2 separate regions of the Homo sapiens genome follow, and region 1 is linked to region 2. The links come from fine-mapping of genetic effects on gene expression. A gene starts in region 2. The other region holds a variant in brackets. All regions are shown on one strand. Distances are from middle to middle. Region 1 overlaps CELA2A (chymotrypsin like elastase 2A). Region 2 holds the start of CPLANE2 (ciliogenesis and planar polarity effector complex subunit 2).

Region 1 (5,372 bases), 770 kb after region 2:
GTTTGGACTCATTTATGGTCTGTATCAGTCACTACAGTAACCAACTATTTCTTAAGTCTCATATTTTATCTTAAAAGTTCATGTGAATTTGGCGTTCTGCTCTGTATCTTTGTTTGTTTTAATATAAAAATAAAGTGTCCTGTATGAGGCCACTGAAAAAATACCTGCTGTGAATTTGCTGTGTAACCTTGGCCAGTCCCACAGGCTTTCTGGCCTGGGGTGCCTATCTACAAACAGGGAGAGGAACAGATGCTCAGTCTGTTCCATCATGTTGCTGTCAGGACTTTTTTTTTTTTTTTTTTTTTTTTTTGAGACAGAGTCTCACTCTGTCACCCAAGCTGGAATGCAGCCGCACCATCTTGGCTCACAGCAACCTCCACTAGGAGGTTCAAGCAATTCTCCTGCCTTTGCCTCCCGAGTAGCTGGGATTACAGGTGCCCGCCACCACACCCGGCTAATTTTGTATTACTTAGTAGCGTCAGGGTTGCACCATGTTGGTCAGGCTGGTCTCGAACTCCTGACCTCAGGTGATCCACCTGCCTCGGCCTCCCAAAGTGCTGGGATTACAGGCGTGAGCCACTGTACCCAGCCGCTTTCAGGATTGGAAAGTGACACAAAACTTCACTCAGTTGTGCTTAAGCCAAAGGGCCATTCATTGGGCCACAAAATGGCAAAGTCCAGGAGCAGAGCTGGGTTCAGGGCCCTGGTGATGGTCCCTGGACTTGGCTTTTCTTCAACTTTTGCTTCTGCCTTCTGCTTTGAGGTCTCATCTCAGGCTCCGTTAAGTGGCCTGTAGCTGCTCTGGGTTCTCCCTTCCTTGAGGACAAGATCACCACCGCATCTCTGGTCCAGAGTTCCTCAACTGCAGCAGTGTTGACATTTTGGGCGAGATGATTCTTGTTTTGAGGGCTGTGTCTATGTCTTGTGCTTTGCAGGAGTTTGACAGCATCCCTGGCCCCAGGCTGCTAGATGCCAGTCCCTCCCCCTCCCCACACAGTTGCCGCAACTAAAAATGTCTCCACACATTGCCAGATGTATGCTGGGGAGCAAAATAACCCCGTCTCCCCCTTCCCCTCTCGTTTTGCTTTGTAGCCTCACATCCCCTCATCCTCACACCCATGCAGTGAATGAGTGACAGCCCTCGGTAGCTCCCTGCACGAGTCGTGCAACCTCTCTGATTGGACCTGTCTCAGGTCACATGCCCATCCCTGAGCCAATCGCTGTGGTGGGGAAGGGGATGCAATGTGTTGATTGGCCAGGCCTGGAGCACGGGCTCCAGCCTTGGTCCTAGGCCATGAGGTTTCGGCAGAACCTCCGGGATCCCATGGGGCAGCGCCTGCACAGAAATCCAGGCTTCTGTGCTGGGAGGGGAGGAAAGAGAGGCAGAGGAGGCAGAGTGCAGGAAGCTGCTACAGCCCACTTCCTTCGCTGGAGCTTAGTGCTCCATTTATATATTGTTGGACAACGATGTCATGTGTCAGGTTCTAAAGTGGGCTGGGTCCTTGAGGTCTCAGTAGGGCAGGGTGACGTAGATGCGAAATTCTTTTTTTTTTTTTTTTTTTGAGACAGGGTCTCACTCTGTCGCCCAGGCTGGAGTGCGACTAAGTGATCTTGGCTCACTGCAGTCTTTACCTCCTGAGCTCAAGTGATCCTCCCACCTCAGCCTCCTGAGTAGCTGGGACTACAGGTGGGTAACACCTCGCCCATTTAATTTTTGTATTTTTAGTAGAGACAGGGTTATGCCATGTTACTCAGGCTGGTCTTGAGTTCCTGGACTCGAGTGATCTGCCTGCCTTGGCCTCCCAAAGTGCTAAGTGCTGGGATTACAGGGTTGTGCCACTGTGCCCACAGCCCTGGATGTTAGGACGGATTGCTAATAAATCTCTCATCAAGATGTGATTTGCATAGTTGTCACTTTATTATATTATTTTCCTTCTGTGACCTTTCCAAGTCTGAAACAGTCCCAGGGACTTCTTTTGGTTAGTTATTTGCAATCACCTGCAGGACACACAAGATAATCGTCAGGTTCACCTAACCGCAGAGCTGTGCATGGCAGTTTCCTGTCTCTGTCCTCCTGGGCTAAGCTACTCATGTGAGTTACAGGCAGCCCACACTACAGTAGCTCCTGCCTGAGGAGTTCTGATGACGTTTCGGAAAAAAAGATGTGATCACAGCTTTTCATTGACCTGTTAGGGTCTTCCTGTAAAGGGGGTCTTAGCCAGGAGTCCTGTGTGGGCTTCAGGGTAGGGGGCCTTCGAACCCCTAAAAATTATATTCCAAATGTGTGGATGGCATATTTTTAGATTTCATTTGTTTCTTAAATCAAAACTGCTGTTTGCAAGGCAGTTATGCACTGTGGTTGGGGCTATAACTGTTTCCAGAGGCTGTTGATCAGTGTCTGTTAAACGTTTTTTTTTTTATTTGTTTGTTTGTTTTCTTTTTGAGACAGTCTCACTCTGTTGCCCAGGCTGGAGTGCAGTAGGGCGATCTGGGCTCACTGCAACCTCCACTATGCAGGTTTAAGTGATTCTCATGCATCAGCCTCCCGGGTAGCTGAGATTATAGTCATGCACCACCATGCCTGGCTAATTTTTTGCATTTTTAGTAGAGATGAGGTTTCACCATGTTGGCCAGGCTGGTCTCAAACTGCTGACCTCAAGTGATCTACTCGCCTCAGCTTCCCAAAGTGCTCAGATTACAGGCGTGAGCCACCGCGCCCAGCCTGTTAAACATTTTGATATGCCAACTTCATGATCCAGTGCTGTAAACTGCAGGAGATCCAGCTGCTACAGCACAAATACTCAGACCAGTGTGCAAGAATTATGTCCAAGGATGTTCATTGCACAATGTAAGAGTGAAAAATAGGAAACATGAAAGCTGCATTCATTACACT[C/G]AAACTATGGAATACTATTTAGCTGTTCAAAAGAATGACATGTATGTACTAACATGTAAAATGTGATAAGGTGTTAAGTGAAAAACAGCTGCAGAACAGTATGAAGACTCAGATCTTAGTTTTTGCATAGAAGACAGTGTCTATCTACGTAAATATATAGCTATATATGCACATAAAGTTGAGACCACACACAAGCTGTTAACAATGACAACTTGGCCAGGCACAGTGGCTCATGCCTGTAATCCCAGCACTTTTGGAGGCCAAGGCGGGCAGATCACCTGAGGTCAGGAGTTTGAGACCAGCCTGGCCAACATGGTGAAACCCCATCTCTACTAAAAATACAAAAATTAGTTGGGCATGGTGGTGTGTGCCTGTAATCCCAGCTACTCAGGAGGCTGAGGCAGAAGAATCGCTTGAACCCGGGAGGTGGAGGTTGCATTGAGCTGCGATCAAGCCACTGCATTTCAGCCTGGGTGACAGAGCGAGACTCTGTCTTAAAAAACAAAAACAAAACCAATGATTACCTCTGGAGAGTGGAATTGGAGATGTAAAATGAGGGGGGACTTCTTACTTTTTTACCTGATACTCTTATAGTCTTTTAATATTTTTACAAAGAGTATGTATTACCTTCCGGAAAAAGAATAAAAACTAAGGATTGCTGAAGGTTCACATGTGACTGTCATTCAATGGACATTTGTTGAAAGGATGAATGCCCCAGGCCACTTGTCTCCTCTGCTTCTCTGCTCTTTTGCTTGTATTTCCTGACCTTGGCTCATCACCTGTCTGGGTTTATCCAGGCAGGTGCTCTCAGGCACCCCCAGGGCTCTAGTGGTATGTGACTCCAGGCTGCACACACTGTGTCCCTGGGTTGGGGCTACTGCAAGGTTTCACTAGCTCCTCCGCTGCTGCCAGGGGCAGCCCCCACCCAAGGACAGCTGGTTGCTTGGCTCTCCCCCTTCTGAAACCCGTTACCGGGCATCTGTGCCTGTCCCGACTGCTCTCCCATGAACACAGGGCCTCTGCCCAGCTGCCTTGCGAGGCGTGCTGCCCCGTGGATCCCTGCTGCCATCTGGCCATGCTTCGGGATCTGGCCTGTTCTGTTGTGCTTGTGTCTGTGGCTGGGAACAGCTGATGCTGGGAAAAAAAAATTGGGACAATTGCCCCTGCCCCTGCTTCAGGTCCCCAGGTTGCTGCCAGGACCAGCTGCATGGTGACTCCCACAGCAGCTGGGGCTGGAAAACGGTCTTAGGATTTGGCTGAGAAAGGCCCCTAAGCAGCCTCTCGTCCAGTCAGTCTCAGGCCAGGCTCCTTTGACATGTGGGTGGCGCCTCCAAAGGTGGACTCAGATGGGTTTTTCCCAATTTAGATATAAAAAAGCACCATTAATGATTAATGGCTACTGTCTTTTTGATTTTTCATTTTTGTCCAACAAACGTCTTTGGAATCTCTGCTTGTGACCACTTGTTGGCAAAAGGATGCCAGCAGACAGACAAATGAACAAGGATCTGGCAAGAATCAGTGGGAACACTTGGAAGCAGCCACCTGCTTATTTTGACAGTTTAGTTTTCCTCCTGTGACCACGTGCTCATGGCTGCAGTTTCATATTTGGTTTTATAAGTGTCAGTTTAATTCAATTTAACACTTCTCTGCAAATTAAACTTAGTGAAGTCAGATGCCAGCTTTCCCCTTCTTTAGGGGCTCTGCCACGAATACCATAACTCCCATTTGCTCTAGCGCCTAAATTGTGGAGGAGTCCTGGTCTAGTTCAAGTCCCATTTTACAGAAGAGCAAACTGAGCTGGTCCCTCATTGGCACAGAGTGTCCGACTCTTTCCTTCTAGCATCCAGTACGAGGCATGGTGGCTCCTCTGCCCTCTCATGGGCAACTCTTTCTTTTTTGTGTGTTTTTTTTTCTTTTGAGATGGAGTCTCGCTCTGTCGCCCAGGCTGGAGTGCAGTGGTGCGAACTCGGGTTACTGCAACCTCCACCTCCCAGGTTCAAGTGATTCCCCTGCCTCAGCCTCCTGAGTAGCTGGGATTACAAGCACGTATCACCACACCCACCTTATTTTTGTATTTTTAGTAGAGACGGGGTTTCCCCGTGTTGACCAGGCTGGTCTCGAACTCCTGACCTCTGGTGATCTGCCCATCTTGACCTCCCAAAGTGCCTGGATTACAGGCGTGAGCCACCAGGCATCCCTTTCTTGTGACGGGGTTTCCTGTTCTGGCTGCTTTCACCTACTGCTGCGTGTATCCATGGCTGCTCCTTAATATTGATGCCAGGTATTATTATCATTATTTTTGGAGACAGGGTCTTGCTATGTCGCCCAGGCTTAAGTGCTCACTGCAGCGTTGGCCTCCCGGGCCCAAGTGATCCTTCCACCCAAGCCTCCCAAGTAGCTGAGACTACAGGCATGTACCACCGTGCCTGAGTAATTAAAAAAAATTTTTTTGTAAAGACAGAGTCTTGCTATGTTGCCC
Region 2 (5,372 bases):
CCAGCCTCTAGAACTATGAGAAAATAAATTTCTGTTGTTTAGAGTACCCAGACTGTGGTATTTTTGTTACAGCAGCCTGGGCTGACTCATATAGACCCCAACTTCAGAACTGCCTAGTGCTTTTGTCAAATCTGCAGGCTCACAGACCTACCCAGCCCCTGACACAGAATGTCGGGGTTGGATGTGTGAACCCCAAATATCTGAGACAGGTCACAGTCAATTTAGAAAGTTTATTTTGCCAAGGTTAAGGATGTGCCCGTGACAGCCTCAGGAAATCCTGAGACATATACCCAAGGTGGTCAGGGGTACAGTTTGCATTTAAGTTTTAGGGAGACATGAGACCTCAATCAATATGTGTAAGATGTACATTGGTTTGGTCTGGTAAGACAGGACAGCTTGAAGCAGGGGCTTCCAGGTTAGAAATACATAAGAGACAAGGCCAGGTGCAGTGGCTCATGCCTATAATCCCAGCACTTTGGAAGGCTGAGGTGGGCGGATCATGAGGTCAGGAGATCCAGACCATCCTGGCCAACATGGTGAAACCCCGTCTCTACTAAAATACAACAACAACAAAAATTAGCCGGACATGGTGGGGCATGCCTATAGTCCCAGCTACCTGGGAGGCTGAGGCAGGGGAATCACTTGAACCTCAGAGGCAGAGGTTGCAGTGAGCCGAGATTGTGCCACTGCACTCCAGCCTGGGCGACAGAGTGAGACTCTGTCTCAAAAAAAAAAAAAGTAGATAGGAGACAAAAGATTGCATTCTTTTGAGTCCTTGATCAGCCTTCCACTGAATACATAATTTTATTTATTCAGCTCTGTCACCCAGGCTGGAGTGCAGTGATATGATTCTGCTCACTGCAACCTCCACCTCCCAGGTTCAAGCGATTCTTCTGCCTCAACCTCCAGAGTAGCTGGGATTACAGGCGCCTGCCATCACAGCCAGATAATTTTTGTATTTTTAGTAGAGACAGGGTTCACCATGTTGGCCAGGCTGGTCTTGAACTCCTGACCTCGGGTGATTTGCCCGCCTCAGCCTCCCAAAGTGCTGGGATTACAGGCGTGAGCCACCGCGCCCAGCCATTTTTTTGTATATTTTTAGGGATAAGGTTTTGCCATGTTACCCAGGCTGGTCTCAAACTCCTGACCTCAAGTGGTCCACCAGCTTCAGCCTCCCAAAGTGCTGGGATTACAGGCGTGAGCCACCGCACATGGCCCCAAGAGGACTTTACATCTTCTCTGGGTTGCAGATTAACAGGCACGTTCATTCTGCCAAGTTGCTTCATTTTCTCACACGCTCACTGAGCCCTCCACGAGCCAAAGATGGGTGGATGTGAAGTCTGGAAATCCAGAAATAATTCAGATCAGAGCCCTGCCACTGAGTGACTCCTGGCCCATGGAGAGAGCTCTGGACAGCTGTGAATCTCCCTGACTGGGCAGATGTGACAGCTGCAGGAATGGGAACCATGTGACCTGGGAGTATGGGCAAAGGATTCCACCTGCAGAATCCTGTAGGAATGGTTATTCATCTGGTTTTTCTGCCTAGCCACAGCGTGAGCAAGTTGAGAGAAAGCACCTTGTCTTACACATCCTCATCCCCTCTCTTAGACATAATGGGCCTTAAAAATCTGTGAGTTCGTAGTCCTCTGGCTGCTTTCTGCTTCCCTAGGAACAGCCCTCCTAGTGGCTAGGGGCAAAGTTTTAAAAACACAAAACCCAAACTGGCAGAACAGATAAGTACTTTAGAGTCAGGTAAGTGTGGGTTCTTTTTTTTTTTTTTTTTTTTTTTTTGACAGGGCCTAGCTCTGTCACTCAGGCTGAAGTGCAGTGGCATGATCTCGGCTCACTGCAACCTCCATTTCCCGGGCTCAAGCAATCCTCTCATCTCAGCCTCCAAGTAGCTGGGACTACAGGCGTGCACTACTGTGCCCGGCTAATTTTTGTATTTTTTTTTTTGTAGAGGCAGGGTCTTACTATGTTGCCCAGGTTGGTCTCAAACTCCTGAGCTTAAGCAATCTGCCCGCCTCAGCTTCCCAAAGTGCTGGGATTACAGGCGTGAGCCACCACACCCAGCCAGCTGTGGGTTCTGAGTCGGTTTCACACTGACTAGCTGTGCGGTGTGACCTCAGACAAGTCACGTTATGTTTCTGAGAGTCTTCGTCAGTACAAGAGGGTAATACTATTTACACAGGTTTGTTTATAGAATTAAATCAGGTGACCCCTGTAAAGTCCCCACTGTCTGGCACTTGGGTGGCCTTAGGTAAAGCTTAACTCCTAAATTATTCCTTTCAAAACAGTGATTTGCCCTACTTGAAGGCATTGCGGAAAGATAATGGTAAAAATTAAATGTAATAGACAAACTCTCAGTAATGACCCACCTGCACTCTTTCCAACCAGTGGGCATTTACTGAGCACCCACCTTCTGGGTAACAGGCCTGGTGTCCAGTGCTGGAACGGTGGAGAGGAGCTCAGAGTTTCAGAGCTGAAAAGTCAGCTCCAGGAGAGCAGGGACTTCTTGTTGGCCACTGTATTCCCAGCTAGGTGCTCAGTATTTGTTGAATGAATGAATGAATGAAAAATACAATCCAGCGGGCCTCTGACTCATTTTTTAAAACTTGAGCCAAGTCCCTTGACCTCTCTGAGCTGGTGTGTGTCCCCATCAGTGAAGCCAGAGATGTTTAAGTCATCTAGAGGTCCTGCCAAGCAGGATTAATAGAGCAATAATATTAATAATAGCAACAATCATAACTAAACATATGGAGCACTGCTATGGAGGGAATAACATGTTACGTCCACGTTATAGAAGAGGAAACTGAGACACAGAGAAGCATGAAAGGCTCCTGGAGGGGGGGTTTCATGATGTTTTGGAAGAAAGACTAGGGATCGGACGGAGTCATAGAGAAGAGGATCCACAACCCAGAGGAAAAGGCCTAGTCCAGAGCCACCGCGCGGCGCAGGCTGCGGACGTTGTAGGAGGGACGAACGCCTCCCGGAACCCGCCCAACCCAACCTCCGGCGTCTCCATGGCAACAACCTCCGCACATGCGCCGCGCGCACCTGCGCCGGAGCTGCCAGCACGCGCAGAAGGCGGACGCAGGCGGGGCGGAAGTGGGCCCGGCGGGCTGGGGCGGCGGGAGTGCGGGTGGGCGTTTAAAGGGGCCTTCGGCACCCAGGTCGGTTCGCCGCCGGGACTGCTGACGGGGAGGGCTAGGTAGCCCTGGGAGTCGGGATCTAGAAGGTAGAGGAGAAGCGGGGCTGTCTGACCCCCGGAGGTGACAAGGGGAGAGGGGCTGTGTGAATACCCTCCATGGGCAGTAATGGGATGACTATCCCCAGGGAGCATTGCGAAGGAGAGAGGCGGCTGAGGGACTGCACTTTCTGGGGCCCCCCGGGAGAGTCAGAGGGCAGTTAAGAGGGATCACAGGCCCGGCTTGGTACTGTCACTCCCCTTCCCACTCCCTGCTCTCAGCATTCTGTCACCTCCCTACCCCGTCGCGGTGCCCAGCCATGGCCAGACCTCCCGTGCCCGGTTCGGTGGTTGTCCCAAACTGGCACGAGAGTGCCGAGGGCAAGGAGTACCTGGCTTGCATTCTGCGCAAGAACCGCCGGCGGGTGTTTGGTAAGTGCCTCCCCCTTTCCTCTAGCCCGCCACTTGTCTTTCCCTGGGGAGAAGAGTGTCACCTGTTGCTCCCTGAGGAGAGCAGAGAGGCAGGGCAGTGAGGGCCTGCTCCACTGCAGTCTTCAGCAGTCTTCAGCCTGGGGGACTGAAAGCCCTAGCTCTGGGACCCCCACACCTAAATCTCCTTAGAGCTAATTCCATCGTCAGAGCCAGGAACATGGAAACAGCAGAAACCTTGCCAGCAACCACTGTCACCAGAGATGCAGTTGATTGAGCACTCCCCTGGTGCCAGGCCCTCTGTTGGGCACGTTACACAGTGCACGCCCATTTAACCTCTCAACAGCACATGGTACAGACTTGGCTAAGATCACACCCCAATAAATAGAGGTGAGCCTCTTCCATGTCCTGCTGTCTCTGGGATGAGACGCTGGTGTTCCCCATGGTGAAACTGACTCACCCAGGCAGGGCCCAGCTGTCAGGCCGGCAGAGGTGCCTGGAATCAGCTGTGGAGCCCAGCTCTGGCCAGGAGAAGCAAGGTGCCAGAAGACTTAAGACCAGAGAGTGAGATAGCTAGAACCAAAATTTGTGAATAAGTCAACTGTTTGTTTGTTTTTTTAAAAGAAATTATATTAAATTCAAAAAATGACCCTCTAGAAGGCTGGGCGCAGTGGCCTGTAATCCCAGCACTTTGGGAGGCCGAGGTGGGCAAATCACCTGAGGTCAGGAGTTCAAGACCAGCCTGGCCAACATGGCGAAACCCCATCTTTACTAAAAATACAAAAATTAGCCGGACGTGGTGGCGGGCACCTGTAATCCCAGCTACTTGGGAGGCTGAGGCAGGAGAATCGCTTGAACACAGAAGGCAGAGGTTGCAGCAACCCTAGATCGAGCCATTGCATTCCATCCTGGGTGACAAGAGTGAAACTCCGTCTCAAAAAAAAAAAAAAAAAAAAGACCCTCTAATATGGCCACTGTCCCTCTAATCCCATGATGGCTGGCAACACTGTATTTGGGGTCACACATACCCAGGCAAGTGACCCAGGCTCCACCACTGCTAGCTGTATGGCTGGGAATAAGTGAACTCTAGCCTCAAGTCCCACCTCTGTAAAATGGGGATAATCACAGTATTTACCCCATAGAGTTACTGGGGAAATTAATAAGGAGGGTGTTTGTAACATACCAAGCAGGTTCTGGCATGCAGTGGGTGTTCACTGAAGGTTGGCTGTTATTGTATTTATTTTGCATTTAGTTGTGTTGAGTGGAAGAGAATTGAGTGAAGGTTGAGCTGATTTTCTGGGAACATCATAGAATCCACTGACCATATTATCTATGCCACAGATAGGATTAAGCAGCCATAACTTAGAGGAATGGCAGTGATGGCTTTTAATTTTTGTGTTTTTACTTTAACTGCAGACATTTGGGTTTTTTTTTAACAGCTGGGTTTATGCACCTGAATGTATCATTCAGTGGTTGTCATGCAGGCCCCACAACAAACGCTGAGAGCAGCTAGTAAATAAATATCAACAGACTGACTATAATGCTTAGGCTAGTCTCTTTGTATCCCAGACTTCTGTAAAATTAGGTTGAGTATTAAGAGCCACAGATGAGGCCGGGCACGGTGGCTCACGCCTGTAATCCCAGCACTTTGGGAGGCTGAGGCAGGCAGATCACCTGAGGTTGGGAGTTCGAGACCAGCCTGACCAACATGGAGAAACCCCATCTCTAAAAATACAAAATTAGCCAGGCATGGTGG

What was found. PIP is the estimated chance that this variant, and not a neighbour inherited with it, causes the effect.
Region 1: its variant is the best candidate, but not a certain one, in a credible set for the expression of CPLANE2 in prefrontal cortex (GTEx, PIP 0.62).

The regions. Positions count from the first base shown.
Region 1 is chr1:15,468,616-15,473,987 of GRCh38, reverse strand. It overlaps CELA2A (chymotrypsin like elastase 2A), which reads right to left. Exons shown (of 8, transcript NM_033440.3): 8 at 1,897-1,998. The coding sequence ends at 1,981. Among named protein-coding and RNA genes, the nearest start is that of CELA2B, 4.8 kb to the left of the region's middle. The variant C/G (reference allele first, on the strand shown) is at 2,894.
Region 2 is chr1:16,234,878-16,240,249 of GRCh38, reverse strand. It overlaps CPLANE2 (ciliogenesis and planar polarity effector complex subunit 2), which reads left to right and starts at 3,067. Exons shown (of 5, transcript NM_030907.4): 1 at 3,067-3,619. The coding sequence starts at 3,508. RefSeq lists a silencer at 3,010-3,189 and an enhancer at 3,030-3,574.